Homo sapiens: one gene and its partners. The protein of the gene in region 1 interacts with the protein of each later gene in a pairwise test. Each region holds a gene or a part of one and is shown in the gene's direction. Other genes may lie near its edges.

Region 1 (7,665 bases):
TCATTCACTTTTTTTGAAATTTTCTTTTTTTTTTCTTCTTTTTTTGAGATGGAGTTTCACTCTGTCGCCCAGGCTGGAGTGCAGTGGTACGATCTCAGCTCACTGCAACCTCTGCCTCCCGGGTTCAAGCAATTCTCCTGCCTCAGCCCCCCAAGTAGCTGGGATTACAGACACCTGCCACCATGCCTGGCTAATTTTTATATTTTATTAGAGACGGAGTTTCACCATGTTGGCCAGGCTGGTGCCAGGTTGGCCAGCTCAAGCTCCCGACCTCAGGTGATGATCTGTCCATCTCAGCCTCCCAAAGTGCTGGGATTACAGGCATGAGCCACCACACCAAGCCGGAAATTTTCATTTCTACAATCCTATTTTATCTTTTCAATAAGTAGTTGTCTTGCTCTCTGGTTGCTCATCTTTATGTAGAATTCTGTTCTTTTATGGACCCAGCAAATTGTCATATCTAAGGATTTATAGTGTTATTTGTTTGTTTGTTTTTTGGCATCTTTGTTTCTTTGTGCTTTTTTTGTTTTGTTTGTGGTTTGTCTTAATCACTTTAATGTTGGAGGCTGTCTTCATTTATCTGGTGATTTTTGAACAAATTTCGGAAGAAACTAAAAACTGATTGGAAATGAGTGTATAAATGGACTTCATTGTAGGATAATTGGGCAGCAAAACCATATTTTCTTAGAGGAACACTAAATTTCAGTCTCTTTTGTGAGACCATTCAGTTTTTTTAGAGACAGATTTTGCATTCTTTTGCTGGAAGATGGGTAGATTGGGTTGAGGTATAGAGTAGGTAACATACCTGGCTACTACATATCCTGCAGCTGGGCACTGTGTCTCATGCTGTAATCCTAGCACTTTGGGAGGCTGAGGTGAGAGGATGGTTTGAGCCCAGGGGTTCGAGGCCAGCCTGGGCAACATTGTAAGAGCCTGTCTCTACAAAAAAATTTAAAAAATTAGCTGACTGTGGTAGCACATGCCTGTACTCCCAGCTACTCAGGAGGCTGAGATGGGGAGGATTGCTTGATCCTGGGAGGTTGAGACAGCAGTGAGCTGTGATCATGCCACTGCACCTTGAGCTTGGGCAACAGAGCAAGACCCTGTCTCAAAAATAAAAAATACAAATAATAAACATCTGGGAACTGAGTATTGGGAAAGAGCTAGAGGTTTTCACTAGTCAGTATGCAGACTTACACTTATCTCCTACTTTCTAGTCTAGTGCTTCATTTCAACCTCCACTGTGCTTTATATCCCAAAGTTCTGTTTCTGTGATTCACATTTTGTTGTCCAGTTTCTCCTTCAAATAAACTTCCAGTCTTTGGTAGCATTGAGAATGCTAGTCACCTACCTTTGTAGTAGGGACCCAAAGTCTATCCTGCTTCTTATCAGATTTTTAACCTCTTCCTCTACTTTAGCACCGTTTCCCCTGCTGTCTGTGATACCTGGTTCCTCTGATTTCTAAGCATTTGGAGTTGATGGTGGGGAGATAAATTAGCTTTCCTCTTATTGGTAGTTCCCTCTCCTGGCATTAAGCTTCCACTTTTCTCCCCTCTTCTAAGTCGGTTACTGTTTCTTTATTCACTTTTGTCTTTATATATTGTGGGCAGGATTATTAATGTCTACTGGCCTTTTCAAAGTTGGAATTTGTATTTCTGTTTCTTTTTTTTTTTCCTGAGAAGATACTGGGGCAGAAATGTTTTTACTTTGCTCACTTAATACTGGAAATAGGTATTAGTTCATTGTTTTTTAACTCAGCGAAAAGGTATATGTCAGCTATATTAATTTTTTTAAACATACTTTATATTTGCTTCAAAAACCCGATATTTGGCTGGGTGTGGCGGCTCATGCCTGTTATTCCAGCATTTTGGGAGGTTGAGGTGGGTGGATTGTTTTGAGCACAGGAGTTCTAGACCAGCCTAGGCAACATGGTGAAACCCTGTCTGTACAAAAATTAGCTGGGCATGGTGGCTCACACCTATGATCCCAGCTACTCAGGAGGCTGAGGCTGGAGGATTGCTTGAGCCCAGGAAGCAGAGGTTGCACTCCAGCCTGGGCAACAGAGTGAGACCCTGTCTCAAAAACAAAACAAAACAAAAAACGAAAAACAAACCCTGATTTCTCTGTTCAAGGAAGAGGTGGTTGGCAAGGGTGGAAGCTTGATTGCTGGAGAAGGATCCAGTTGTGCTGATTTTATTTGCCCACTAACAGATAGACATACCTATTATGTAAGCTAACTGATTTGTGTACATGAGTCCTAGGGTCATCTTTAGATGGTAACTACTTCCAGAAAATGTGGTATATATTCTGATAATCTTGAAAATCATCTTTAGAGGACAGGCCCAGCAGAGATGGTAACTGCTTTCAGAAGAGGATAGTTTATATGCTGATAATCTTGAAAATCATCTTTAGAGGACAGGCCCAGCAGAGATGGTAACTGCTTTCAGAAGAGGATCGTTTATATACTGATATTCTTTAAAATAGGGGTAAAGAGAAAAGTCATCTAAAATATTAGAACATTTAAGAAAAATGTCATCACTTTTTATTTGTGAGATACATAACATATAACATAGTTCTTTTTTTTTGTTTTTTAGTAGAGATCGGGTTTCTCCATGTTGGTCAGGCTGGTCTCGAACTCCTGACCTCAAGTTATCTACCCGCCTCGGCCTCCCAAAGTGCTGAGATTACAGGCATGAGCCACCGTGCCCAGCTTAACATACTTCTTAACTGAGGAGAAAGACTAAGGGATATGTTAGGTTGCTTATTTTAAAAAAACAGCTTTAAGGAACATAGCATCAATAGTGATCATGGGAATTTAAAAAAAGCCAACATTTGAGTGCCTACTCTATGTCAGGCACTGTTCTTAGGTGCTACATGCCTTCTTATCAGTGTAATAGTTTATTAATGACTTCCACTTGAGTACCCTTCACAAATATATTTATTTTTGTACTTTCTGTACCTTAGTTCCTCAAATGATTATTAGATTTATTTCCAGTTAAGTACATGTAATGAGTACAGTGAGGCTCATTAAAGTTAGATTATATTCTGTGATCATCATATCAAACACTTAACTGGAACATTTGAACTTCTCAGTTTTGGTATGCTTTTTTTGTGGGGGTGTGTGTGATTTAGACACAGACAAGAGATCTCAAATATTTTACTATTTTTTAAAACAAATTTAACTACATATCTTATTCAATATAACATAATAGTAGTCATAATCAGCTTCATATTCATACATCTGATTATAATTTTAAAACAATATAAATTTTCTGGTATTTTTATAACATTAAATTTTTGTTTTAAAATGAATTTCTATATTTTTCTAAGGAAACTTGGTTTTAAATAGAGAAAAAATTTAAATATGCTCTTTCTTCCCTTACAGGTTTCACCTTGCTTAAATGTCCTGTCACGACTGTTGTTTAGCAGTGACCCAGATGTGTTAGCAGACGTGTGTTGGGCCCTTTCTTATCTCTCCGATGGACCCAATGATAAAATTCAAGCAGTCATTGATTCTGGAGTCTGTCGAAGATTGGTGGAACTTTTGATGTAACTATAAATAATTTATGCTTAATAATTGTATGATTGAGATTAAAATTAGCAATTCAAGTAATAGCTTTGTAAATATCTCAAGAGTCACTGTCTTCAGGGAAAATTAAAAAGCTACTGACCCAACACTTAACAGAATAGCCATAATCCTAGAAAGTTGACCCTAAAATTTGGAACTTATGTCCTATAGTTGGAACTAATTATTTTGTAAATGAATTTCCTTAGTTTAATGTGATCTCTTTATGAATTAGATAAACTTAATAAGTATTTATGGAATGCCTGTTATCTGCTAAGGTGTTGTGTGAGACATTAATGAAGTATAGAACACAGTTTCTCCTCTCACAGAACAAATAATCTAGTTTATTATTCATTATAATAATTAATTTGAGTAAAAGTCCATGTAGTGAAAATCATTTAGTATTTCACCTCTATTAAAGATAACATGTTTCTCTTTGCTGGGCTGTTATAGCTATTTTCCTTAAAAAGAACAGCTTTTCTATACAAAGAAGTTAAAAACGTTGAAGAAAACTTGTTTTAAAAAGATGTTGTAACTTCATAACTTCATCTACTTACCCTCTTTAAAAAATGTATTATCTTCCTTCCTTTCTTCTTTTGTCGAGAAGCCATTGTAGGCCCAAACAAGGTAGATGGCACAAAGATAGGTCTGATAAGGAGTTGGGGGTCCCAGCATGAGGATAGCATCAGTGGAGGGTGGGCATGCAGGTTCAGCATGGGGGATCAGGGCCCCAACTTGATAATGACACCCACTGGGGTGAGCAGATAAGCAGGCTGGAGCAGGACTTGGAGCCAGCACATCATGGGGTACCAGTCTGGCTGAGGTAAAAGATTGGCTGATATAGGGAGGTTAGGAAAATAGAAGCTATTTCCTGTTATCGGAGAATAGAGATAAAAATATAGAAGAGGAGAAAGCCTGAATAATTTAATTATTTTAGATTAGAACTAGAAATATCAGTGTGAACTCATGGCTCTTAACATAGCTAGGTATGGAAATAAATATATACATGTGTGTAGGTATGTGTGTGTGCATCCTCTTGAAGGGCATGGGAACAGTAACACTTCTACATTAATAAGCTGAGGAAACTGAAGTTCAAATCGAAGTTTCTAAACACTACTCTCCATTGAAAGGAACCAAGATTGTTGGAGAAATGACTGGTTTCAGGACTGGGACTGAGAAAAATGTAAGATGAATGCAGGAAGTAATGAGTGCTCAAGTAATGGACAGATGTCAAAAGAACACAGAAGCCTATTTGAAGGGGTTCTCACTATCCAAACCTGGGACAGTTTGTGCTTTGAAATAAATTGCATTAATGTATATTTTATTGAATAAAATATGAAACCCATAAGTCCACACTAAAGCATGTAGTTAGAATGATAGTATTAGAAATACATCACTGGTAATAATACTAATAATTACCAATACTTCAGATAATAAGCATCAAGAGATGCTAAAATCTAGTGGTAAAGTAGGTTAAGGAGTGGGATTTTGCATTATCTCAAAGTATTTTGTTGCAAAATATTAATTATATTAATTATAAATGGGAAAACAATAATGGTAAAATGGAAAAGTCTGGCAGACATCATCATAATTAGTGACCAGAATTCAGTACCAATATAATGGGAAAAAACAGATTGGGATATAATGAAAAGGTTATAGCACTTACGATATCCCCCAGCCAAAGTATATAACCTGGGTCTTAATCATGAAAAACATTGGATAAACCCAAATAATGGGCTTATGATCTTCAAAAATGGCAAAATCATGAAAATTAAGGGAAGACTGAGAAATCATTCTGGAGAGACATGAAAACTGGCTGTAATGAACGATCCTGGATTAGATCCTTTGTTATAAAGATTATCAGAATAATTAGTAAAACTTCAATGGGATCTTTGGCTGAACACCCCGCAGGAGTTTGTAGTATTTTTGTAACTTCTGTGTAAATTTTAAATTCTTACTAGTATTTAGGTTCATGTTTTTATTATTTTTAGGCACAATGATTATAAAGTTGTATCACCTGCATTAAGGGCAGTTGGTAATATTGTGACTGGTGATGATATTCAAACACAGGTGAGTTCAAACTTGAGTATCATAAATTGTTAACATAAAGGACTTTAAAAAATTTATGTTTCATACAACTTGATTACATATTAATCAAGATTTTAGCATCACCATAATTGTGTGTGTGTCTGTATCTGTGTCTTGGAGGATGGTGAGATGTCAAAGAAGATGTGCTGTCAAGATTGACTCCAGCCAGATTTGGGTTACAATCTTTTTATTTATTTAGTAAGTTAGTTTAGTTAGAGACAGGATATTGCTCTTTCTCCTAGGCTGGGGTGCAGTGGTGTGATCATGGCTCACTGCAGCCTTTACCTCCCTGGCTTAAGCAGTCCTCCTGGCTCAAGCAGTCCTCCCGCCTCAGCCTTCCAAGTAGTTGGGACTGCAGGTGTGCACCACCACACCTGGCTAATTTATTTATTTATTTATTTTTTAGGGACAGGGTCTTGCTATGTTGCCCAAGTTGGTCTCAAATTCCTGAGCTCAAGTGATCCTCCTGCTTTGGCCTCTCAAAGCGTTAGACTTACAGGCATGAGCCAGTATGTCCAGCACAATCTTTCTTGAAGATAGAAACTTAAATTATTTAACACGTTAGATTCTCCTTTGTTTACCGCCTTACAGTGTATTTTTTATTCTAACCTACATATTTTCTTTCAGTTTTATCCTTTTAAAGGCCTATTTGGATACTAATCATAGTTATTAAATAGTTGCTCTTTAGTAATTGACAGTTATTCATTTAATATAGCTCTTGAAATGAAAATGCCATTCTAGACATATACTGTAATTTTCAGTTGGATTTCCAGTGCACTGCTCCACACTTCTTCACCAGATGAATTTAATGTAAATCATTGGAGTATTTTGAATATAGGAACATAATTAATCTTGCAATGGAATAAAGAATGTAAAGGGACAATGCAGAATATACTTGTTTACAGAAGAAGAGTAAGATAGTAAAAATTTTTATGAAGCCAATTGATTCTACATGCTGTTTTTAATGGTTGTAGAATTGGATTTTCTCAGACTGTATGATATATGTATTTTTTTCACCAATTCATTTGGCAAAACTAGAGGTTGGATCCTGACCTCGGTCACCAAATCTTTTTTCAGTTTTATCAGTTGAACTCTGAGAACATTTGTAAATATGAAGGATACACCTCTGATTTTCATTTTATTGGGTTGAGAACAGGGCAGTTCCTTATAGTGGCAGGAGACTAGGTTTATCAATAGCAGACGTGTAGAAGACAGCAAGTTTTACTTTGGGAGGAATTTCTCCTTTCTTAATTTCACTTTCTAGAATGGGTTTTGTACATCTAAATAATTCATTAGTAGATTTTCATATAGGTTATTTACTATAAAACTTTTTGTTTCCATTTCTAACTTGTTTTAGGTAATTTTGAATTGTTCTGCATTACCCTGTCTCTTACATTTATTGAGTAGCCCAAAGGAGTCAATTAGAAAAGAAGCCTGCTGGACTGTTTCTAACATCACTGCTGGAAATAGAGCTCAGATTCAGGTAACTACCCTTCAGATCTGAGAGTAGAACAGCAAGGTCTAAGAAGCCAGTTTGGACAAAAGTTAACACTTTTACTAAAAAAGATTCCTTTTTAAAAAGATACCGAAAAAGTATTTTAAAGAACATGGGCTTTCCTCCTCTAAAATAATAACATTTACTTGTAGTATTCTAGTGAAGAACATCAAGTGTGTGTGTGTGTGTGTGTGTCTAGCACAGTGCCTGACACATAATGGTTTGTCTTTAGAAAGATATTTTTTTGCATTAGTTTTAAATAAGTTATGCAATAATCTTCCTCTCAAAGCTTTTAATGATTTATTAGGGTTCTATCAAGCTTCTTGTGTCAGTGATTACTTATCCATTTTGATCAGTCACATGGCTTGTGCTTTATCATCTCTAAAATTTATATTTTGCTATTCTCCAGTCTTTAAAAAGCTAATTTCCTATGTAAAAAGAAAAATATTTGAAAAGTTTGCTGACAGAATAGAAATTAAAAATTTATTTTAATGTCAAGGTTCCAAAAACCTTGACA
Region 2 (7,665 bases), on another chromosome or scaffold:
TTACAGGCGCACACAACCACGCCCACCTAATTTTTGTATTTTCAGTAGAGACGGGGTTTCACCATCTTGGCCAGGCTGGTCTCAAACTCCTGACCTCGTGATCCGCCTGCCTCAGCTTCCCAGAGTGCTGGGATTACAGGCATGAGCCACCGCGCCCGGTGCGCCCAGCCCTCTTCTCTCTTCTTTGCATCTCTCTTCCTATCTGGATCCCTCTTTGCTGTCCTTAAAGAGCTGAGATGAGAGATTGAGAAACATCTCTACAAGAAATTGACGTTTTTCTACTTATGGGTAATTAGAAGCTTGTAGTATTTTCAGTCTTCTAAGTATGTTGAAGATATGAGACGTTGGTGATTTTCTTTGTTTCTCCGGTTGGTTGGTCTGTGTAGTTTTTGGACATGTGTTTGGATATTTGGATTTATATAGCTGCCATAATCTTGGCTATGCAGGTAGTCTTTCCTGACACTTCATCCTGAAAGATTTGAAGCCTTTGGACAAATTTTACAGTGGGCTGGGTGCAGTGGCTCACGTCTGTAATCCCAGTGCTTTGGGAGGCTGGGCAGGAAGATTGCTTGAGCCCAGGAGTTTGAGACCAGCCTGGACAACATAGTGAGACCCGTGTCTCTACAAAAAATAAAAAATATGCCGTGTGTGGCGTTATACAACTGTAGTCCCAGCTACTTAGGAGGCTGAGGTGGGAAGATCACGAGCCAAGGAGTTTGAGGGTACGGTGAGCCATGATCGCCTCACTGCACTGGGTGGCACAGCGAGACTGTCTCAAAAAAAAAATTTACAATTAATGTCTGCATATCCTTCACCTAGGTTCATAAATTTGTACTTTTGCTTTATCTACTTGCCTTTTTCTCTCTCTCTACACACACACACACACACACACACACACACACAATTAGTTGAATGAATTGAGAGTAAGTTGCAGAAAACATGACACTTTACTCCAATATTGCATCATACAAAATCATACATCTAGTGATAGGCCATTGTCCTACAGAATCACGATATAATTATCACACTAACCAGCTGTGGTGGTGCACACCTGTAGTCTAAGCTACTCGGGAGGCTGAGGCAGAAGGATCACCTGAGCCCAGGAGGTTGTGGCTGCAGTCTCATATTCATCCCATCATCAGATTTCTCCCATTGTCCTAATAATATTCTTTATAGCTTTTCTTTATCCCTGATCCGAAATTTCATTGAAGATCACACAGTGCATTTAGTTGTCATGCCTCTTAAGTCTTTATTTATTTATTATTTATTTTTTGAGATGGAGTCTTGCTCTGTTACCCAAACTGGAGTGCAGTGGCATGATCTTGGCTCATGCAACCTCCACCCGCTGGGTTCAAGTGATTATCCTGCTTCAGCCTCCCGTGTTGCTGGGACTACAGGTGTGTGCCACCATGCCCAGCTACTTTTTATATTTTTAGTAGAGACGGGAATTGTACCATGTTGGCCAGGCTGGTCTTGAACTCCTGAGCTCAGATGATCCACCCGCCTTGGCCTCCCAAAGTGCTGGGATTACAGGCGTGGGCCACCACACCCAGCCTTAAGCCTCTTTTAACATAAAAGAGTTCACCAGCCATTCTATTTTGTTTTGCTTTTTGAGACACTGATGCTTTGGAGAGTCCAGGCCAGTTGCTTTGTAGATTTCAACTTGTTTGATTGTTTCCTGATGATTAGGTTGGTAGAAATACTACCTCAATGATGGGACCTTCTTAGTGCGTCCATCAGGAAGCACATGATGTGACTGTAATTGGTGACATTAAGTTTGATTCCTTAATAATTAAGGTGGTAACTCCCAGGTTTCTACATTGTAAAGGCATCTTTTGCCGCCCTCCTTTTTATTCCCAAGTAGTTTATTTGGAGATTAGTCCTTTACACAGTAGAGGAGCGGGGAAGGGAGACAGGAAAGGAAAGTTTGACAACAAAGGGTGAGTTTTCAAGCCTGTTGCCACGGGGGAACCTAATTCCACTGGAGAAGCTCATGGCTTGGTGATGTTCCACAGAGGGGTCAGAAATTTAGCGTATTTCAACACCAGCTCCTGTCAGGCACCATTTGAGGGCTGCTGCCAGGGTGGTTCAATTTTCTGGTGCTTACAGCTTGCCATAAACAGGTGCAAAGTAGTCTGGATACCAAAGAAAGCTCTCAGGTAACAAGATGCAGATGTTGGCATTTGGAAGTCAGAATAGGGTGCACTATTGTGGTAAGAGCTGAAGGGATGGCTGGGCGCGGTGGCTCACACCTGTAGTCCCAGCACTTTGGGAGGATGAGGCAGGCGGATCACCTGAGGTCAGAAGTTCGAGAGCAGCCTGGCCAACATGACGAAACCCCGTCTCTACTAAAAATACAAAAATTAGCCAGGCGTGGTGGTGGATGCCTGTAATCCCAGCTATTCAGTAGGCTGAGGCAGGAGAATTGCTTGAATCTGGGAGGTGTAGGTTGCAGTGAGCTGAGATCACACCACTCTGCACTCCAGCCTGGGTGACAGAGCGAGACTCTGTCTCAGAAAAAAAAAAAAGCTGAAGGGATGCTGAGTAGAGCATCCGTAGTGTCTGCTATACCTGGGTACCCTAGAACCTGGAGAACCTACAGCTTGAGGCAAGAGCGTATGTGCTATTATTTTTTCAAGAAGTGTGCTCTCAGGAAGCAGAGGTAGGGGAAAGGTGAGTGAAGGGAGAAGGAAGATTAAGTCAGTTCAAGGGTGCATTTTGAAGTTGGTTGCCCTTGGTGCAAGTACAGTTGGTTGCTTGTTCTCCTAAAGCTGTCTCCCAGGAGGATGTATACATAACTGCATTCCAGGGCAATCCATCTAAAGGAAGGGTGGACGGACCCCTCAGCTTCTGTATCTCACTGGAAAAAGGTTTGCTTCATGGCACATTAATTCCCATAGACTTCTAGGTTGTGCATGTGTGGGTACCAGGTGGGTCCCACAGACCCTTACACCTCCAAGGCAAGCAGCAAGCCACGGGTGGGAAGTGATAGGTACCCAGTATGAGCAGGAGGTAAGGGACCGTGGGGTTGTGCCTGTGGGCAGTTGGTTATAACCCAGACGTGTTTGATCAGCCCAGTGACAGCTGGAGTGGACAAAGTGACCAAGGGCCTCAAGGACACACAAGGCCAAGAAGATTTGAAGTGCTGTGTAAGATATGCCTAATGCATTTGGATTCTACCTTTGTTTAACGAATATGCACACATAAAAAACACTTGAACTCCTTGAGCCCAGGAGTTCAAGACCAACCTGGGCAACATAGTGAGACACTCATCTCTAAAAAAATTTTAAAAAAAATTAACCTGGCATGATAGCACTCACCTGTAGTCCTGTCTACTCTGGAGGCCGCAGTGGGAGGATCACCTGAGCCCTGGAGGTCAAGGTTACAGTATGCTATGATTGCACCACTGCATTCCAGCCTGGGTAACAGAGCAAGACGCTGTCTCTTAAATTTTTTTTTTTTTTTTTTTTACTTTTATAATGGAAAAACCATTGTAGACAGTTTTAGGAAGGAAAGCAGAATAGTAAGACATCTTTTTCAAAGTAAAAGAGCAAAAAAGGCAAAAAATATTTCACATTTACTTTATGGACAAAGATAAGATTGTCCTTCAATAAAAGACTGAATTTTTTTTGTTTGTTTTGTTTTGTTTTTTGAGAAAGAGTCTTGCTCCATTGCCCAGGCTGGAATGCAGTGGTGTGGTCTCGGCTCACTGCAACCTCCGCCTCCCGGGTACAAGCAATTCTCCAGCCTCAGCCCCCCGAGTAGCTGGGACTACAGGCACGCGCCACTGCATCTGGCTAAGTTTTGTATTTTTAGTAGAGATGGGGTTTCACCATGTTGACCAGGCTCGTCTTGAACTCCTGACCTCAGGTTATCCACCTGCCTGGGCCTCCCAAAGTGCTGGGATTACAAGTGTGAGCCACCGTGCCCGGCCACAAGTTGCTCTTTAAATGTGAGAAGTGTTCTGGCATGGTGGCTCACACCTGAGGCGGGTGGATCACTTGAGGTCAGGAGTTCGAGATCAGGCTGGCCAACATGGTGAAACCCCGTCTCTAGTTATTTATTTATTTATTTATTTATTTATTTATTTATTTATTTTTTTGAGACGGAGTTTCACTCTTGTTTCCCAGGCGGGAGTGCAATGGCGCAATCTCGGCTCACTGCAACCTCCGCCTTCCGGGTTCAAGCGATTCTCTTGCCTCAGCCTCCTGAGTAGCTGGGATTACAGGCATGCACCACCACACCCGGCTAATTTTGTATTTTTAGTAGAGACGGGGTTTTTCCATGTTGGTCAGGCTGGTCTCGAATTCCTGACCTCAGGTGATCTGCCCTCCTCAGCCTCCCGAAGTGTTGGGATTACAGGCGTGAGCCACCACGCCCGGCCCTGTCTCTACTAAAAATGCAAAATTTAGCCGGGCATGGTGGCGCACACCTGTAATCTCAGCTACTCAGGAGACTGAAGCAGCAGATTCGCTTGAACCCAGGAGGTGAAGGTTGCAGTGAGCTGAGACCACACCACTGCAGGGCAGCCTAGGCGACAAGAGCGAAACGCTTACAAAAAAAAAAAAAAAAAAAGATTCACAGGTGATGGTGATGCTGCTGGTTAAGGAAGTGAAGTGGCTTTTTGCTCTGTAGCCTTCCTGAATGTTGGGGCCTCCTGCTCTTCATTTGTTTCATTTCTATTAAGTCTCCTCCCTCCAGCTATCTTGTTAGCTCCTGGAAAGCATTTCAGTGATTGTGGCTTCTATTTCTTTTTGACCCCACAGTGTCCAGGGTCATGCTGCCTATATAGTAGTGAGCAGTAAGTTGAGGTTTTTAAAAACTTTATTATTATTATTTTTGAGATGGAGTCTTGTTCTGTCACCCAGGCTGGAGTGCAGTGGCACAATCTCAGTTCACTGCAACCTCTGCCTCCCAAGTTCAAGTGATTCTCCTGCCTCAGCCTCCCGAGTAGCTGGGACTACAGGCGCCTGCCACCACATCCGGCTAATTTTTTTGTATTTTTAGTACAGATGGGGTTTCACTATGTTGGTCAGGCTGATCTCGAACTCCTGACCTCAGGTGATCCGCCTGCTTTGGCCTCCCAAAGTGTTAGGGTTACAGGTGTGAGCCACCACACCTGGCCGGTTTTTTTAAACTTTAAAACAGATTCACTTGATTTTTCTTCCCTACCCCCCAGCTTTTTTGAGGTATGACTGACAAAAATTGTATATATTTAGGGTGTACAATGTGATGATTTGATATGTGAATGCACTGTGAAATGATTACCACAGTCAAGGTAATTCACATATCCACCACCTCCCAGTTACCCTCTTAGCTAGTACAGGTTGGGTATTGCTTCTCTGAAATGCTTTGGGACCAGAAGTGTTTTGGACTTCAGATTTTGGAATATTTGAATATATATAATCAGATATCTTGGGAAGGGGACCCAAGTCTAAACATGAAATTCATTTGTTTTCAGAGCCTAAAGATGATTTTTTTTTTTTTTTTTTTTTGAGATGGAGTCTCACTCTCGCCCAGGCTGGAGTGCCGTGGCACAATCTCAGCTCACTGCAACCTCTGCCTCCCAGGTTCAAGCGATTCTCCTACCTCAGCCTCCCAAGTAGCTGGAATTACAGGCTCGCACTACCACACCCGGCTAATTTTTGTATTTTTATAAAGACATTTCACCATGTTGGCCAGGCTGGTCTCAAACTCCTGACCTCAGGTGATCCGCCCGCCTCAGCCTCCCAAAGTGCTGGGATTATAGGTGTCAGTGACTGCGTCTGGCTGATAATTGAATTTTTCTCTTGGAGAAGCTGAATAAACTGTGTGTTGTGTGCCTGCCTTTTTTTTTGTTTTTTTTTTTTTTTGAGACAGAGTCAGACACTCTGTCACCCAGGCTGGAGTGCGATGGGGTGGTCATAGCTCACTGCAGCCTCAAACTCCTGAGCTCAAGCGATCCTCCCACATCAGCCTCCTAAGTAGCATAGCACCACGCCTGGCTAATTTTTAAATTTTTTGTAGTGATGGGGTTTTGTTGTCTAGGCTAGTCTCAAACTCCTGGGCTCAAGCAGTCCTTCTGCCTTGGCCTCCCAAGGTGGTAGGATTATAGGTTTGAGCCACCATGCCTGGCCATTACCTGTGTTTTGACTATAACACATCATGTTGGCACTCAAAACGTTTTGGATTTTGGAGCATTTTGAATTTTGGATTTTTGGATTAGCAATGTTCCACCTATAGTACATTTTTTGTTTGCTTTCCCATAAAGAATTTTTTGTAATTTTGATTTTATAGTTCTAAATGTAATATATTCTTATTGTAAAAATCACCTTTAATAGCACCGCCAGAATAGCAAACATGTTAACAGAAAGGTAGAAGTAGACCTTAAAGAATCTTCAGCAGCTTGAGAGACCACAGCTAACCACTGAGGAACTCTGTTCTGGATTGGAGCAGTGCTTAGAAGCTTATAAATAACTCTTAGGGTATTGCATAGGGATTCTTTTTTTTTTTTTTTCCTGAAATGGAGTCTCGCTCTGTCGCCCAGGCTGGAGTGCAGGGTGTGATCTCAGATCACTGCAACCTCCGCCTCCTGGGTTCAAGCAATTCTTTGCCTCAGCCTCCCGAGTAGCTGGGATTACAGGCGCCTGCCACCATGCCCAGCTAATTTTTTTGGATTTTTAGTAGAGAGGGGGTTTCACCATGTTAGCCAGGATGGTCTCCATCTCCTGACCTTGTGATCCACCCACCTCGGCCTCCCAAAGTGCTGGGATTACAGGCATGAGCCACTGTGCCTGGCCGCATAAGGATTCTTTATGTGATTTTTCAGTAGAGGCTCTTGCCTTTTACTTTAAACATTCTTTGAGGGTTGTTTTTTTTTTCCGCTTTTTATTTATATAGAGGTCAACCAGAATCAAGATGTCTGGGACTGAGGAAGCAATTCTTGGAGGACGTGACAGCCATCCTGCTGCTGGCGGCGGCTCAGTGTTATGCTTTGGACAGGTAACTGTGGTTCCTTCATGCCGGGAAAGAATGAGGTGAAGTGAGTAAAGTTAGGGCAAGGCAGTTTGTAGAGCATCGTAGTACATGTGTGAGCAGTACCTAGTACGTTTACCTAGTACGTGTGTGAGCAGTACCTAGTACGTTTACCTAGTACGTGTGTGAGCAGTACCTAGTACGTTGACGCGGTGCGTGCGGGGGCAGTACCTAGTACGTTTACATAGTACATGTGTGAGCTATTTGTTATTGGTTTTTCCTTTAGATGCATTTTTTGGGAGTCTTGTGAACTCTGGAGGGCATTTTGGAATGTTAGCTATCAAAAGACTGATAGTACTGGGGATTAGATTTAGATTTTAAATTTTTTGTGGGGGGGGATAGATAACATATTTGTATGACATCAAATTCAAAATGAAACTGTGAAAATCTCCCTATTTCCTATTGCCCCTGTGTGCATGCCACCCAGTTCTATTTCTTTTTTTTTTCGAGACTGAGTCTTGCTTTGTCACCCAGGCTGCAGTGCAGTGGTGCGATCTCAGCTCACTGCAACTTCCACCCTCTGGATTCAAGCAATTCTCCTGCCTCAGCCTCCCAAGTAGCTGGGATAACAGGCATGCACCACCATGGCCAGCTAATTTTTATATTTTTAGTAGAGATGGGGTTTAACCATGTTGGCCAGGCTGGTCTCGA
Region 3 (7,665 bases), on another chromosome or scaffold:
GGTTTAAAGGAGAAAGGATTTCAGGTTTCCTTCTGAATTCCTGTGTATGTCGTTAGGACCCCAAATTGTAGGTTTTTTGTTTTATTAAACGATAATTATGCACTTGTCTAATTTTGTTAGGGAACCGAAGGCCAACTTCCCATGATTTAAATACCTGAATTTGCATTGCCTGCACACTGTAGGTTCAACCAAATCTCTGGGTTGTCTTTAGAAGCATTTTATGTAAATAATCACGAATGAGTGACTTGTTTTAAGGGAAATTTAAGCTCCTGTGGTCTGGGATTAAATTTTTATGCCTTTTCTTGTATGGAATAAGGCATTCAGTAAAGTTGAAGAATAATAACAATGAACAGTAATTACTGAAATTAAAATTTTTCCCTGAGTATTTGAAAAGGCATGCTGATTTTTTGGTTTCTGGAGGAACTATGAACTGTCAGTCTTTAGAAACAGTCTACAGTCCTACCTCAACAGGAAGTTAATGTATACATTCAGCTTCTGTCAGATGTCTTTAGACAAGCCTGTTGCTTCATGCTGAAGCAGGCTTATTCATTCACACAGTGCCACTGTGAAAAATTGAAGGGTGAGGGGAAACTCCCTGGGCTGTTGAATTTCACAAATGTCTACTTTAACCTCAAGAGTTTAGATGCGCCCTTTCTGGGCCAGTAATCATCTAGGAAATGGGATATCTGAATTTAGATGTTTGTGTGTGACTGTGTGATGCTTATTAATATGTATATATAGAGTATTTGGAAAATCAATCTTAAAATGCAAATCTTTGATTTTGTAAAAAACATTTCAGGAAATGTTCTATACTAAAATACATTTTCTTTATGTTCTTTCATGTTTTCCTTGATAGCTAAAGCTAGTGTTTTCAGCCTGAGCTTACCCAAATATAATTTTCCATGAATGCTTAGTAAAACAGCAATGAAAAAGGAATCCACTTGTTATTTTAGAAACATTTTATTTAGACCAAGTCCAATGTTTTTTGAGTCTCAAGATACATGTTAATTTTTGTGCCTTGTGTATCATATTTCCTTCCTTATTAACTAGAGGGTGGATTACCCACTTTCTTGGGTTTTCAGTTAGTACTTTTATCCATCAGTTTTCTACTAAGGTAAACAGACTGGAAGATAAATAGTAAAAGGAGGTGAAACAAATGAATTTCAGGTGTTTCCAGGAGATTAAAACCATATTGAGCTATTGGAAACTTTTAATCCTCAAGCAACAACAATGCTTTGTTTGAAGTTATTTTAGTGCAATATGGACAAAACTTGGGAAAGGAATTTTTGACTGCTCAAGAAAAATAAGTGGATTGCTTATACCTTAGAATATATATATATACACACACACATATATATATTTTTTATTTTTTCAAAAGTGCACTTCAGAATTGGGCTAATGTATTTTCAGCCCAACTTAATGCAGTGTAGTTAGCAAAACATCCAAAAGGCTTCATCATGTTGTGGTCTTTAGGCCTAAAATGTTTTAAAATGTGAACATTTATGTGATACCAAGTAAACTTTCTATGACCCAAAGAAGGGCTAGAAATAAAACTTTACAGAGATGTTCTAGTATATTAGAAAACAATGGCTGGTTATGGTGGTTCATGCCTATAATCCCAGCACTTTGGGAGGCCAAGGCAGGAAGATTGCTTGAGGCTAGGAATTCTAGACCAGCCTGGGCAATGTAGTGACATCCTGTCTTTACAGAATATTTAAAAAAACAAAAAAACGAAAAACTAGCTGGGTATGGTGGCATATGCCTATAGTTTGAGCTATTCAGGAGGCTGAGGCAGGAGGATCACTTGAACTTAGGAGTTTGAGGTTGCAGTGAGCATAATCATGCCATTGTGTTCCTGCCTGGGCGACAGTGCGACCGTGTTTCTTAAAAAAAACTAGTTGCTGTTAAGGTAGGCCTACCACATTTGTAATCTCTTGAGGCAAATCTGTGTTGTTTCTCTAAGAGCAGTCACTTAGAAGATAATCTGACAGTAAGGAATGGTCTACTGAATCCCAGATCTGGTAGTCTGCCTTGCCCAATCACAACATAGTTTGTGTAAAACTCCAACTGCTACTGAACCATCAGATAATTTCTTGAGGAAGCCGTTTCTCTTAAGGAGAAGTGTGTGTGTGTTGGAGGGAGTGTTGGTGGGGAGAAGAGGGGTAAAGAGAAGATGATACTAGTAAAATAATCTAGTTTTGTAGGTTGGGATGATCACTGGAATTTTTTAGGGGAAATATTCTCAAAAAAAGTTGTAAGAGCTACTTTTGTATGGGTTATCAGTTTGGTGATTTAGACTATAGTAATTGCATTGTTTAATATGCATTGTATTTCGATTAATTCATGCATGCTGATTTCTGTGGTAACAAATGTGAAAAGTTTGGCTGATGGCTTAAGTGGACATTTTCTTAAGAACTCTTTAAGTGGTGCCTGTTGGGATAAACTATGCCAAGCCATTTTCTGAATCTTCATGAAGAATGAGCTTTGTATGCATATATATTAAGACAGTTTTTTTTAAAAAGAGCATGTATTTTACTGTTGGTAATTGTAAAGTTTTTGCTTTTTAGAACTTTAAGAGTCCGTTTTGTTGCTGCTACTGAATGCTAATGTGGTTAGGCTGGCAGCTAAACCTACAAAGAACAAGGGGAAATGAGGAAATGTCCCAATGAAACATTGCTTAAAACTGTTTGCGCAGTGGACTAGAAATGGGGAGTTGGGGACTAGGGGACCTGATTCTTGTTTTATGTTCAAAGGAGAGTGAAGCATTCTCTCCATTAAGAAATAACCTCCTTAAGTGTATTCTCACTTTGGAGTTTTGCCACTCATTCATTCACCTGACGATGATTAAAGATATACCACATTCTGGGCATGTACTAGGTGCTAGAGTAACAAATCTTGGGCCTTGTCGTGTAGAGCAGAAAGGTATGGGCTCAACTAGCTATGTTACAACTTCTAGAGAACCAAAATAGAGCAAACAAAGAGTGGTGTGGGATTATAGGAGGAGGGAGAAATTCCTTCTAGGGAGAGGAGAATGATACACAGAGAAAAGTGAGGTTAGGGAAGACTTTTCACATAGGGGAAGTTTGAGTAGGACTTGGAAGGGGGAGTAGCTGCATTACTGATGGAGAAGAGGGGCTGAGAGGAAGGGCATCAGTAGTCTGATTTGAGAACTAGCAAGTGGATTTTGCTCGACTTGGAGAATAGTGGAAAGTGAAACTGATAAGGTTGTGGCCATATTGGGAAGAGTTTGTAATTCCATGCTCATGAGTGTGAACTTTATTCTATAGGCATTTAGGGACCATAAGAGGTTTGAGTAGGACATCCACTATGGTTTTTAAAAAGATGACATGTAAAGATTTGACTAGAGACTTGTGAGAGTATTGAATTGTGATGTAAAAGGACATCGATTCTGGGGATAATTTTTACTTCACAGTTGTCAGATTTGAGTGACAATTGAGTAAAGAGTTAAAGATTATAGTGTGGTTATTGGGTGATGATGATGCCTTTAAGATAGGGAATGTATAGGAAGAACAGAATTTGAGGAGGAAGGTAATAGAGTATGACTCCAGATGTGTTAAGATATCTGGGAATCAAGAAAGGTCAAGTAAGTACCTGGGTATTTGGGCTGGAGCTCAAGGGGACATTGGGATAAATTAGGGGATTTGCATTCATCAGTATAATGCCATATAGAAACTGCAGAAAGCCAGGCATGGTGCCTCACACCTGTAATCCTAACACTTTAGGAGGCCAAGGCAGAGGATCACTTAAGGCCAGGAGTTCAAAACCAGTCTGGGCAACGTTGTGAGACCCTGTTTCTACAAAAATTTAAAAAATTTGTCAGGTATAGTGGTAGCCACCTGTGGTCTCAGCTACTCGGGAGGCTGAGGCTGGAGTATGACTTGAGCCCAGGAGTTTGAGGCTGTAGCAAGCTATGATAGGGCCACTGCACTCCAGCTTGGGTGTCAGTGTAAGACCCTGTCTATAAAAAAGAAAGAGAAAATAGTACAGATTGAGTATCCTTTATCCAAAATGCTTAGGACCAGAAATGTTTTGGAGTTTTTTTTGACTTTGTAATGTTGGTATGCATATAATGAGATACCCTGGAGATAGGGCCCAAGTCTAAACTTGAAATTCATTTGTGTTTCATATACATCTTACAACCTGGATGCAGTTTTATACAATATTTTAAATAATTTTGTGCAGGAAACAAAGTTTTGATTCCATTCTGACTGCAACATGTCACCTGAGGTCAGGTGTGGAATTTTCCACTTGTGGCATCATGTCAACACTCAGAAAGTTTCAGATTTTGGAGCATTTCAGATTTTAAACTTTTGGATTAGGAATGCTTAACCATATCAGGAGTGAAGAAAAAAAACTAAGGGCAACCTTGAAGAGCATCTACATCTGAGGGTCAAGTAGAAGAATAGAAACCTATGAAGTAAGTTGAGAAAGAATGGCTAAACAGATAAGGTTATAGGGTTGAAGAAGCTGAAGAGAGGGATTAAGTGAATACTGACAGGGAAGTTAGCCGTGTGAAATACCACAGAGTTCATTGGTTTGGAGGGCAATGCCGGAGGATCGCTTGAACCCAGCACTTCAAGACCAGCCTGAGCAACATAGCAAGACCTCGTATCTATTAAAAAAAAAAAAATCATTGGGATAAAAACTGGACTTGGCATACGTGTATATATATATATATATATATATATATATATATATATACACACACACACACATATATATACACGTGTGTGTGTGTGTGTGTGTGTGTGTGTGTGTATATATATATATATATATATATGTATTGTTTTGCTGGGAACCATGATAGTTTAGACAGAATAGATTTCTAGAGCATTACTAAATTCAGGGGTAGGTCCTACAGAATCTAACTTAGTAGAAGACCCATGCTTAGAAATAGGTCCTGTTCTTCCATGTCTCTCTGCAATGGGAGTTGCAGCTTAAATGCTTTGGGAGATGACCCCCAATGACAAGGCTGCCTAAAAATCTCCATATTGTTTGGGTTGTTTTTTTTTTTTTTTGCCTCTTTTACATTGTCTTAAATTCTGAGAATTGGAGATTTCATTTGAGTTGACAGTGTCTTAAAATACAAATAACCTCTTGCAGAGTTTTGAGGTTTTATGATATTAATATGTTAAGTATGGGGGTTTTTAACCTGGGGTTTTCTGGTTCTGGGGTTTATATATTTTGGCTGTGTGACCCTGAATCCCTTAAAATTGTTTGAAAAGTTATGTGTGAGTGCATGTGTGATTTTTCTGGGGAGAGGGTCCACAACATTTATGAGATTTTTCAAGGGGGCTGTTGACACACAGAAAAGTCAAGGGCCTTTACTAAATGTTAATGATTAAATCAAGTGTTGGTTGTGTTCGTTGGCTGAAATCAGTTATCTCAACAAGTGAGACAGATCAAGGGAAAGAAATCTTGAGTAGGTGTCTCAGGTGAAGAACTTTGGAAAGATACGAGGAACTTCTTAGAAATGGGAGTAGGAGCACCAGAAGGAAGGTAGGAGGAATGCCAAAGCAAAGCTTAACCGATTTCAGAATTTTGTCAAGTCTCTGGATTGCTTGGTTTTTTTATACTCTAGGACTGACACTTAGTATATGTTTATTCATGCACTGTAGATACAGTAGGCTTTATGGGGTAGGGGAATCAAATCACTTTTTTTTTTTTTTTTTTGAGATAGAGTCTCGCTTTGTCACCCAGACTGGAGTGCAGTGGTATGATCTTGGCTGACTGCAACCTCCGCCTCCCGGGTTCAAGCGATTCTTCTGCCTCAGCCTCCCAAGCAGCTGGGATTACAGGCGCCTGCCACCATGCCCAGCTAATTTTTTATTTTTAGTAGAGATGGGATTTCACCATATTGGACAGGCTGGTCTTGAATTCCTGACCTTGTGATCCGCCCGCCTTGGCCTCCCAAAGTGCTGGGATTACAGGCATGAGCCACCGCACTGGGCCCAAATTACTATTGTTTTAAAGGGAAAGTGTTTTGAAAGAAAACAAATTGATAGATTGTGCTTGTTGGAAAAAAATTTTTCTACCAAGCTGGCTCATCTGTCAGAAAAAATTCATTTTTAAGTTAGGTGTTGCTTATGCTTTGGAAAAAATTTTAAATGCACAAATATTTCAGTCTAGTGATATGGGGCAAGACATTTATTTTCTCCTTGCAAATTTTTTCTGACCATGAAATGAAAATACCGTTGATGGTTTTTGTAGTGTCTTTCTGAAATATGACGATTATGGAATACTTTGAGATCCAGGATGATTTAATGCTAAGAAATTGCTGGCATTCACATTTCTAAAGTCGTGAATAAAATTAAGAAATTCAAGCACATTATGTGTTCACTAGATCTTACTTGATTTCCAAAATATTTCTTTTTGAAATTTTAGATAATTGGTAATTTTTACTTCCTTCTGCTAATCTTTGCATCTTTGAAATTAGATTAGGAGGCAGTTTTGTCAGCTAGGCCCTAGTTTCTGGGGCAGTGATATCCATACTTTTGCTTGCCACCCTCAAAATAAATTAATGCCACTTGGGATTAATTTGTGATTTTTCTGGGGAGAGGGTCTACAACTTTTATTTATTTTACCAGTAGTCTTGGTAAATACAAGAATGATATGAATAAATATGTTGGGTAATCTTAAACTTGTGTTATGTGATTTGTAATTAGCTTGTGTTTGTGGATGATCTTTACATTCAGTAAATCTCCAAAGAGGGCCCAGATAGAATGGAGTATTTTGTCTTTTCCTTTGGGAACTTTTTTTGGTTCTTTCTTTCATTAAACAATTATGAAATAAAATTTTTGGTAACAGATCTTCCATGTAAAAATAGCCCACAAATCAAAGAACTAGCCAAGATTTGCTAAGTAAGAACACATCATGGAATACCATCATAGAACTAGTCTCTTACCCCAAAACTAGCTGTAGGTGCTAAGTCTAAAGAAGAAGTAATTCTGATATGTTACCAGAATTATGTGGTAATGCGACTGAGTGTTAAAATTGTTGTCTTCTTTAATTTTTGGCTCTATTATTTTAAAAGTTTTTCTCCATAGAATTTTTTTTTTTTTTTTTTTGAGATACTATCTCGCTCTGTCGCCCGGGCTGGAGTGCAGTGGCATGATCTTGGCTCACTGTAACTTCCGCCTCTCGGGTTCAAGCGATTATCCTGCCTCAGCCTCCTGAGTAGCTGGGATTACAGGCACCCGCCACCATGCCGGGCTAATTTTTGTGTTTTTAGTAGAGACAGGGTTTCACCATGTTGGTCAGGCTGGTCTAGAACTCACGACCTTGTAATCTGCCCGCCTCGGCCTCCCAAAGTGCTGGGATTACAGGTGTGAGCCACCGTGACCGGCCGAAATGTATTTATAGTGAAAAATTTAGAAGAAAAGCACCCCCCATTAGTGGTTGTCTTTGGTCTATAAGCTTATTAGGTGATTTTCATGTTCTTTCTTATACCTTCCATTGTTTTTCAAGTTATCCTTAATGAAAATGCATTAGCGTTTACGAGCAGAAAAAATAAACATAAATACAGATAACACAATTATGGCCCTAATGACTTCACTGTCAGATTTTGGATAGGCAAGTTACTTATCTTTACTGGGCTTTTTCCCCATTTGAAAAATGAGGAGGACAGAAATGATATTTAAATTT
Region 4 (7,665 bases), on another chromosome or scaffold:
GTATATGTATTCTTTTAGAGAGGTCTCACTATGTTAGGCCAGGCTGGTCTTGAACTCCTGCCCTCAAGTGATCCTTCCATCTCGACCTCCCAAAGTGTTTGGGACTACAGGCCTGAGCCACCATGTCCGGCTGAGTCTCTTTATTTTTACATTTCTTTAAGTTGTCCATATTTAAGAGCTTATTTCTCATAAATGTGATGCCTCACCAGTGCTCCATGCATTTTGCCCTTTTTCCTATTACAGGTATACCCAGATACTCGGGCTCTTACTAGTTTTATTCGTTTCCTTCAAACCAACCCCCATTTCCAGTATTTAAGCCGACATTTACTGACTTTTGCTGCATCCAAGGACATGAACATTTGCCCATTGTATCCTTAAGTAACCCAGAGAAGAGAGAATGACTGTCCTCTTTTTAGAGATGAGGAAGCTGAGTTTAGAGAATGTAGATAATTGCTCAGGAGAAATGGCAGAGTAGGGATTCAAATCTAAGTCTAGGCTGGGCACGGTGGTTCACGCCTGTAATCCCAGCACTTTGGGAGGCCGAGGCGGGCAGATCACTTGAGGTCAGGAGTTTGAGACCAGCCTGGCCAACGTGAAACCCCATCTCTACTAAAAATACAAAAAAGTACCCAGGCGTGGTGGCAGGCGCCTATAATTCCAGCTACTTGGGAGGCTGAGGCAGGAGAATCACTTGAACCCAGGAGGCGAAGGTTGCAGTGAGCTGAGATCATGCCTCTGCACTCCAGCCTGGGTGACAGAACAAGACTCCATCTCAAAAAAAAAAAAAAAAAAATTCGAAGTCTGCTGTGTTTTCCATAGCCCTTGGGACCTCTTCTTCTCTTTCCACCTGTAAATTTATTTCATGCCCAAATTTCCTTAAGCTGGGAATTCCAACAGGAGCACCAAATTTTAACTGCTGATGCTTTCCCGTTCACATGGGCTACACTAAGCCTTTGTTTATTGGTTAGTGACAGACATACTAATCCTAGGTTGTGAGCATAAGAAACCCTTCTCCCCGCCACCCCCCTTTTTTTTTCTGGTTTAATTTTTTTTTTTTTTTTTTAGACGGAGTCTCGCTCTGTCACCCAGGCTGGAGTGCAGTGGCGCCATCTCGGCTCATTGCAAGCTCCGCCTTCTGGGTTCACGCCATTCTCCTGCCTCAGCCTCCCAAGTAGCTGGGACTACAGGCACCTGCCACCATGCCTGGCTAAGTTTTTTGTATTTTTAGTAGAGATGGGGTTTCACTGTGTTTGCCAGGATGGTCTCGATCTCCTGAGCTCGTGATCCGCCTGCCTCAGCCTCCCAAAGCGCTGGGATTACAGGCGTGAGCCACCATGCCTGGCCTTCTCTTTTAATTTTTAAAGAACAGAGTAGCAGGCAGTACCTTTTCACTGTTGGCCAGTTGATGACTGGCCATTACCTAGTTCTCGTGGCAGCCTGAATCCTCTGATTATCAGAAGCCTTTTTCAGTGTTGTAGCACACAGCAATGGAGCAGAAGCAAATACTGTGTGGGAGTTGTTTGCTTGAGTTTTTTCCTGATCTGGTCAGTAATGTATGAGAGGACCCTCTGGTGGCTGTGAAAGTCTCAGTCCCCCAGGATAGTGAAGGATAAAAAGTAATCTTCGTTGTGTTCACCATTTTTAGAGGATCTGCTATACCCATACATTTACTGGGTGCTTTATGCATGTTTTATTAGTAATTGTAAAAAAAAAAACCTTCGATACAAAGTGGATAGAAATAGCATGGCCCTTGTTTTATATTGAGGAAGCTAAGGCTTGGGTGAGGCTGAATCCCTTGTCCAGAGTCACACACCCTGTGGCAGAGCCACAGGGCTACACACCAGAGCTATTTCGAAAAGCCTGGGGTCCCGCCATTCTGCTATACTTGGCACTCAGATTCCTGGCGGTGCTAGGTTGGTCTCCTGAAGTTCTAACTTGGAATTAAGTAAATCTGTAGGAGAAGGTGAAGGGGGGAAGAGTTGGGTCCATTTTGACTTCTGGCAGTATTCTTCAGTGGGGAAAAACACCATCCTCATCCTCATTAACCACATACATTTTGAACACCGTCTACTTTGAGCCCAGTTCTTATAGTCAATGCAATGATTGTGAATGCCTCTGCTTGCTACAGGGACATTAATCGAGAGACAAAGAAGGCATCAATTCAAACTTCCTTGGACACCTTTTTTAAGAGACCTGGGCCATCCAAACCATCCCCCAAAGCCCTTCTAAATTCTAAGAAGGCAAGCAAAATTATTGTTAATAAAATGTTTAATGTTTATTATGGCTAGCCTATTAGCTTACATCAAATTTCTGGTATGGTAGAGTTGTAATTTTTTTTAATCAGTATTTACACATTACATTGGGATCCTGAATAATCTGTGTGTAGTGTATTTTGTGCCTATTGGGCCTTAAAGCACAATTTTACTACTTTCAGCAGTTCCAGAGTACTACAGTTATTTGGGATTTTTGTTGTTTTCTTGCTTTCATTTCATTTTTCAAACTACTGATTGGCATGTCCAAATTGTTTGAGAAGGGGTGCTTTGCCAGGAAGTAGCCAAAAATCTCACATAATTGTACAGTTTCAGAAACAGGAGAGCCTTGGAGGCCCTGTGTACTGGAAGAGTCAATGAAACTAGATAGAGAAAGGGCTTTTGGTATTAAAAAGCATTAGATAAATATCAGAGGTTGTATGTGTTTTTGTGCACCTATTTCTAGGAAATAATTCTGAAATATAAATGGCTCATTCCTTTAAGTGGAGAATTTTTAGAGTGAACCTTTTTGGAAAAGCTGCCTAAAGCTGACTCTAGCTGGCATCGAGTCAGCCTTTGTGAAGAGAAAGCCAGTATGCTAGCTAGCCATCTGGGGTGGCATTGCAGCATTTTTTTCCTCTTTGGCAAGAAGTCATACCTGGGCTTCTGGAAGTCAGGGCCTGACTGGAAGGGAAGCTAATCTGAAAATTACATGATACAAAAGCAGCTCTATGACCAGAAGGGCTGGGGACAGCTTTCTTAAAACGTCAAGGAACTGACTATATAAGCACATTGTTTGATCCACAGACTCTTGGATCATTGTACAATTTGTGTTTTGAGGGGTGCAACGTTTTCCTGTTGCTGTAACCCTGCTGTGTGTTCCCTGCATGAATAAAACAAGTGTGGGAGCCTCTTTCTTCATCAAGAAGATGAAGTTCTTCATGTGCAGGGGTCAGTAGCCCTTTTCTCTAAGGGCCAAATAGTAGGTTCATTTGGCTTTGTAGCCTGTTTATATAGTCTCTGTCACAACTAGTCTGCTTGGCCATTTTAGTACATAAGGAGCCATACATAAATAAATGAGTGTGACTGTGTTCCAATGGAGCTTATTTTACAAAAACAAGTGGTGGGCCAGAATTGGCCACTGGACCACCGGTTCCCAACCCCTGCTCTAGAGCCTTGAGGCAGATTTTCACACCATTTTATATCTCCTCAGAACTACATAGATACCTTGAGTTCTGAAAATAAGGTTTTGTTTTGTCTGCATTTCTTCTCAGGTCCTTGTGAGTGTTGTAACAGCTTTCCTAATAAAGCAGCAAAACCTGTTAAGCATCAACATTTATTTTTTTAGAAATTATTTTATGTGGAGGTCCTCTTAAAGTTTGTTTGGGTGTTTTTAGTACTATCTTCTTAGAGAATACCGAAGTTTTTCTCTTGATTCAGAACCATTAAAGGTTGTGTTTATGAAGCTATCCAGATATATGTAGTTATTGCCCCTATTCTGAAAGGCACCAGGCTATGTGCTACTTCACATTGGATTTGCCTTTCATAGGCTGCTCCCTCTTCTATCTACAAGGGTCTGCTGTCACTTCCTGTTGCTGTCTCCTGACTTGCCTATAGTGTAGTACCTCTGCCCTCTCAATCTCTTAATTTACCCTTAATCAAAACTTAATAGACCTGGGATTGAAATACTAGTACACTGATATAATAACAAATGAAGATCTGAGTAAATACATAGACATTTTCCAGTGCACTTTGACTACTCAGAAAACTTGACTTGGGCCAACTTTTTATAGCTTAACTGTTTTTAGATAGATGAAACTGATGGTTCCAAAGAAATGAGGTATTGCAACAAAATTTCAAGGTATGGTAAATAAAATCAGAAGAACTTTACATCATAAAAGTCTGGTAACATGTCAGTCTTTTCCCCAAATACTAAAAAAGAAGAGTGCAATGTTTCTCCGTATTTCCGAAGTTTCAACTCTGCGCCCCTCTGCTTTTTCCTCAGCCCATATTGACTCCTGTCTTCCCTGAAAGTAGCTGCATTGCCACACTTTATATTTTATTATATTTCATCCTCTAGTGTTTCATGTCTGTGCCCTAACTAAAATTGTAAGCACCCTAAGATTGTGTTATAAATCTCTGAATTTTTCCCTATACTGCCACCCTAGAACATTAAAGACCGCTTGATACCCAGGAAGTTCTTAATGGCCATTTGATTACTCAAATGTTAACATTTGTTTCAGCTAAATTTATTAAACTGTTTGATTGTCTCATACTGTGAAAATACCTGGATTTAATAAAAATTATTTTCAATTTATATTTCTTTAGACTACTATGCTGCCAGAAAAACACATAGTTCTCTGGGAGAGTAGATAAAGGAAGAGAGGGACTAAAGTCTAGTAACCTAATATAAAGGTTGCAAAAGACTTGATGTATTTTTCTATATATGAGGCTGAGTGGGTAGTGGAAATTGAATATAGAGCCTAGAATTTTACCTCTTCAAGAGATGGATTTGTTACTTATATTCCTTTGGTTTAGGAGTTGTGGTTTTTGATCCTTTTCTTCAGAAAAAGTTAGAATGTCTGAAAAGCCTGGACCTCTTTAACTGTGAGGTTACCAACCTGAATGACTACCGAGAGAGTGTCTTCAAGCTCCTGCCCCAGCTTACCTACTTGGATGGCTATGACCGAGAGGACCAGGAAGCACCTGACTCAGATGCCGAGGTGGATGGTGTGGATGAAGAGGAGGAGGACGAAGGTGAGTAGGCTCAGCATCTGGTGAACCTGATGTCTGCCTTTCAAAGCCTCTGATAAAAGCTATTGGATGTTGGCCGGGCGCAGTGGCACACAACCGTAATCCCAGCACTTTGGGTGGCCGAGGCAGGGGGCATTGCTTGAGCCCAGGAGTTTGAGACTAGCCTGGGCAACATGGCAATACCTTGTTTCTACAGAAAATAGAAAAAAAAAAAATTAGCCAGGTGTGGTGGCGCACACCTGGAGTCTTAGCTACTCAGAAGACTGGAGGCCGAGGTGGGAGGATCACTTGAACCTAGGAGTTTGAGGCTACAGTGAGCCATGATTGTTCCCCACTGCACTCCGTCTCAGAAGACAGACAGGGTGTCTCAAAAAAAAAAGCTACTAGATGTTCTTACTATTGAGGAAAATAGTGTGTGTTTGTGTGCGTGCGCACGCGTGTATTTTTTGAATGTAGGCATTCCATTAAATTTATAGCTAAGGCCTATTTCATAAGCACCTGGCCTCAAGGGATCCTCCCACCTCAGCCTCCCCAAGTGGTGGGATTACAGGGATGAGACACTGAACCTGGCCCGGGAAGCATTTCCTGAAGTCTACAAGCTAAGTTAGGATGCTGTGCGTTTAAACTGTAAACCGCTTGCTCTTACAGGCTTGCCACTCTGCTGTTCTTAAGTCTTCCTACTTCAGGGGTCTTCAACCCACAGGCCACAGACTGGTACTACTCCATGACCTGTTAGAAACCAGGCCGCATGAGCAGTGAGGAAGCCTCATCTGTATTTACAGCCACTCCCCATTGCTCACATTACTGTCTGGGCTCCACCTCCTGTCAGATCAATGGTGGTATTAGATTCTCATAGGAACGAGAATCCTATTGTGAACTGCACATGTGAGGGGGCTAGGTTGTGTGCTCCTTAGAAGAATCTAATGCCTGATGATCCGAGGTGGAGCTGAGGTGGTGATGCTAGAGCTGAGGTGGTGATGCTAGCACTGGGGAGTGGCTGCAAATACAGATTAACATTAGCAAAGAGGTTTGACTTTACAGAGATGATAATAAATCAATTGCTTGCAGACTCATCAACCCCTATCTGTGAGTGGCAAGTGACAAGCTGCATCTGGTGGCAGGCTTTATAGTGGCAAGTGAGTTGGTGTACTTCAGTTGTACAGCTGTATCTGGTGACAGGCTTTAAGTCAGAATCTGATGCTTTTTTTAGTCAGTGCATGGCCTGCCCATTTTTTTATTTACCACTTCCATCCACACCTCTTTCCCGCACTGCGTATTTGTCTCAGTCACAGTTTTGTTAGGCCCACAAGCTAACTATCCAACATGAGTAAAAAACGTCGCTGGAGAGCTTCTTTGAGAAGGGGGAAAGACCCAATAATGAGACAGCAGAAGACAAGACTGCCAATGAAAAGAAAGCTTCATTGAAAAGAAAATACCAAGAGTGCTACTTAAATTACAGGTTCATTGCAACAGATGATTCACATTCTCCAAGCCCACTTTGTATAATATGTGGCAACAAGCTATCCAACAAAGCCATGAAACCTTCAAAACCACTTCACTGGCTGGGCACAGTGGCTCATGCCTGTAATCCCAGCACTTACAGAGGCCGAGGTAGATCACCTGAGGTCAGGAGTTCAAGACCAGCCTGGCCAACATGGGGAAACCCTGGCTCTGCAAAAATACAAAAATTAACCAGGCATGGTGGTGCACACCTTTAGTCCCAGCTTCTCGGGAGGCTGAGGCATGAGAATTGCTTGAACCTGGGAGGCGGAGGTTGCAGTGAGCCGAGATTGTGCCGCTGTGCTTTAGCCTGGGCGATAGAGCAAGACTCCATCTCAAAAAACAAACAAACAAAAAAAAAACTGCTTCACCACTTGGAGACCAAGCACCCTGCGTTTAAAAGACAAGCCTTTGGAGTTTTTCAAAAGAAATAAACATGAACGTGAAAAACAGAGGCAATTATTGAAAGCTCCCACTTCATCAAATGTGACTGCACTGAGAACATCTCATTCTTAGTGGCTAACTGCATTGCTAAAGCTAAGAAGCCCTTAACTAACTGCATTGCTAAAGTAAGAAGCCCTTTACTATTGAAGAGTTGATCCTGCCTGCTGCTAAGGACATTTGTCATGAACTTTTAGGAGAGGCTGCAGTTAAGCTGCAGTTCAAAAGGTGGCACATGTTCCTCTTTGAGCTAGCACCATAACTAGATGAATTGATGACATAGTAGAGGATATTGAGGCATAGTTGTTAGAGAGGATTGATGAGTCACCGTGGTACACATTGCAGGTTGACAAGTCTGCCGATGTTGACAACATGGCAACAATGCTTGTTTTTGTGCAATATATTTTCAGGAGGATGTGCATGAGACTATGTTATGTGTACTTCGTTGCCAACCAGCACCACAGCTGCAGAACTATTCAAGTCTTTTGAACGATTACATATCAGGAAAACTGAATTGGTCATTTTGTGTCGTATATGCACAGATGGAGCGGCTGCCATGGCTGGACGGCTTTCTGGTTTCACTACTCGAGTCAGAGAGGTCGCTTCTGGATGTGAGTCTATGCACTGTGTCATCCATAGAGAAATGCTGGCTAGCTGACAAATGTCACCTGAACTTAACGTTTTGCAGGATGTGATTAAAATTAACCACATTAAAGTACAT

The links.
Region 2: the proteins of KPNA5 (region 1) and RAD52 interact in binary tests that used the Homo sapiens proteins (3 or more experiments, as listed by UniProt).
Region 3: the proteins of KPNA5 (region 1) and NRF1 interact in binary tests that used the Homo sapiens proteins (3 or more experiments, as listed by UniProt).
Region 4: the proteins of KPNA5 (region 1) and ANP32B interact in binary tests that used the Homo sapiens proteins (3 or more experiments, as listed by UniProt).

The regions. Positions count from the first base shown.
Region 1 is NC_000006.12:116,718,741-116,726,405, forward strand, and holds part of KPNA5 (importin subunit alpha-6), read left to right. Parts: intron 1-3,385; coding exon 3,386-3,549; coding exon of another isoform or gene 3,550-3,553; exon of another isoform or gene 3,554-4,584; intron 4,585-5,556; coding exon 5,557-5,635; intron 5,636-7,010; coding exon 7,011-7,136; intron 7,137-7,665. UniProt on the Homo sapiens protein: Functions in nuclear protein import as an adapter protein for nuclear receptor KPNB1. Binds specifically and directly to substrates containing either a simple or bipartite NLS motif.
Region 2 is NC_000012.12:932,291-939,955, reverse strand, and holds part of RAD52 (DNA repair protein RAD52 homolog), read left to right. Parts: intron 1-2,504; exon of another isoform or gene 2,505-2,870; intron 2,871-3,073; exon of another isoform or gene 3,074-3,149; intron 3,150-4,087; exon of another isoform or gene 4,088-6,879; 5' UTR 6,880-6,897; coding exon 6,898-6,981; exon of another isoform or gene 6,982-7,115; intron 7,116-7,150; exon of another isoform or gene 7,151-7,665. UniProt on the Homo sapiens protein: Involved in double-stranded break repair. Plays a central role in genetic recombination and DNA repair by promoting the annealing of complementary single-stranded DNA and by stimulation of the RAD51 recombinase.
Region 3 is NC_000007.14:129,614,713-129,622,377, forward strand, and holds part of NRF1 (nuclear respiratory factor 1), read left to right. Parts: intron 1-7,665. UniProt on the Homo sapiens protein: Transcription factor that activates the expression of the EIF2S1 (EIF2-alpha) gene. Links the transcriptional modulation of key metabolic genes to cellular growth and development.
Region 4 is NC_000009.12:98,000,148-98,007,812, forward strand, and holds part of ANP32B (acidic leucine-rich nuclear phosphoprotein 32 family member B), read left to right. Parts: intron 1-4,816; coding exon 4,817-5,006; intron 5,007-7,665. UniProt on the Homo sapiens protein: Multifunctional protein that is involved in the regulation of many processes including cell proliferation, apoptosis, cell cycle progression or transcription.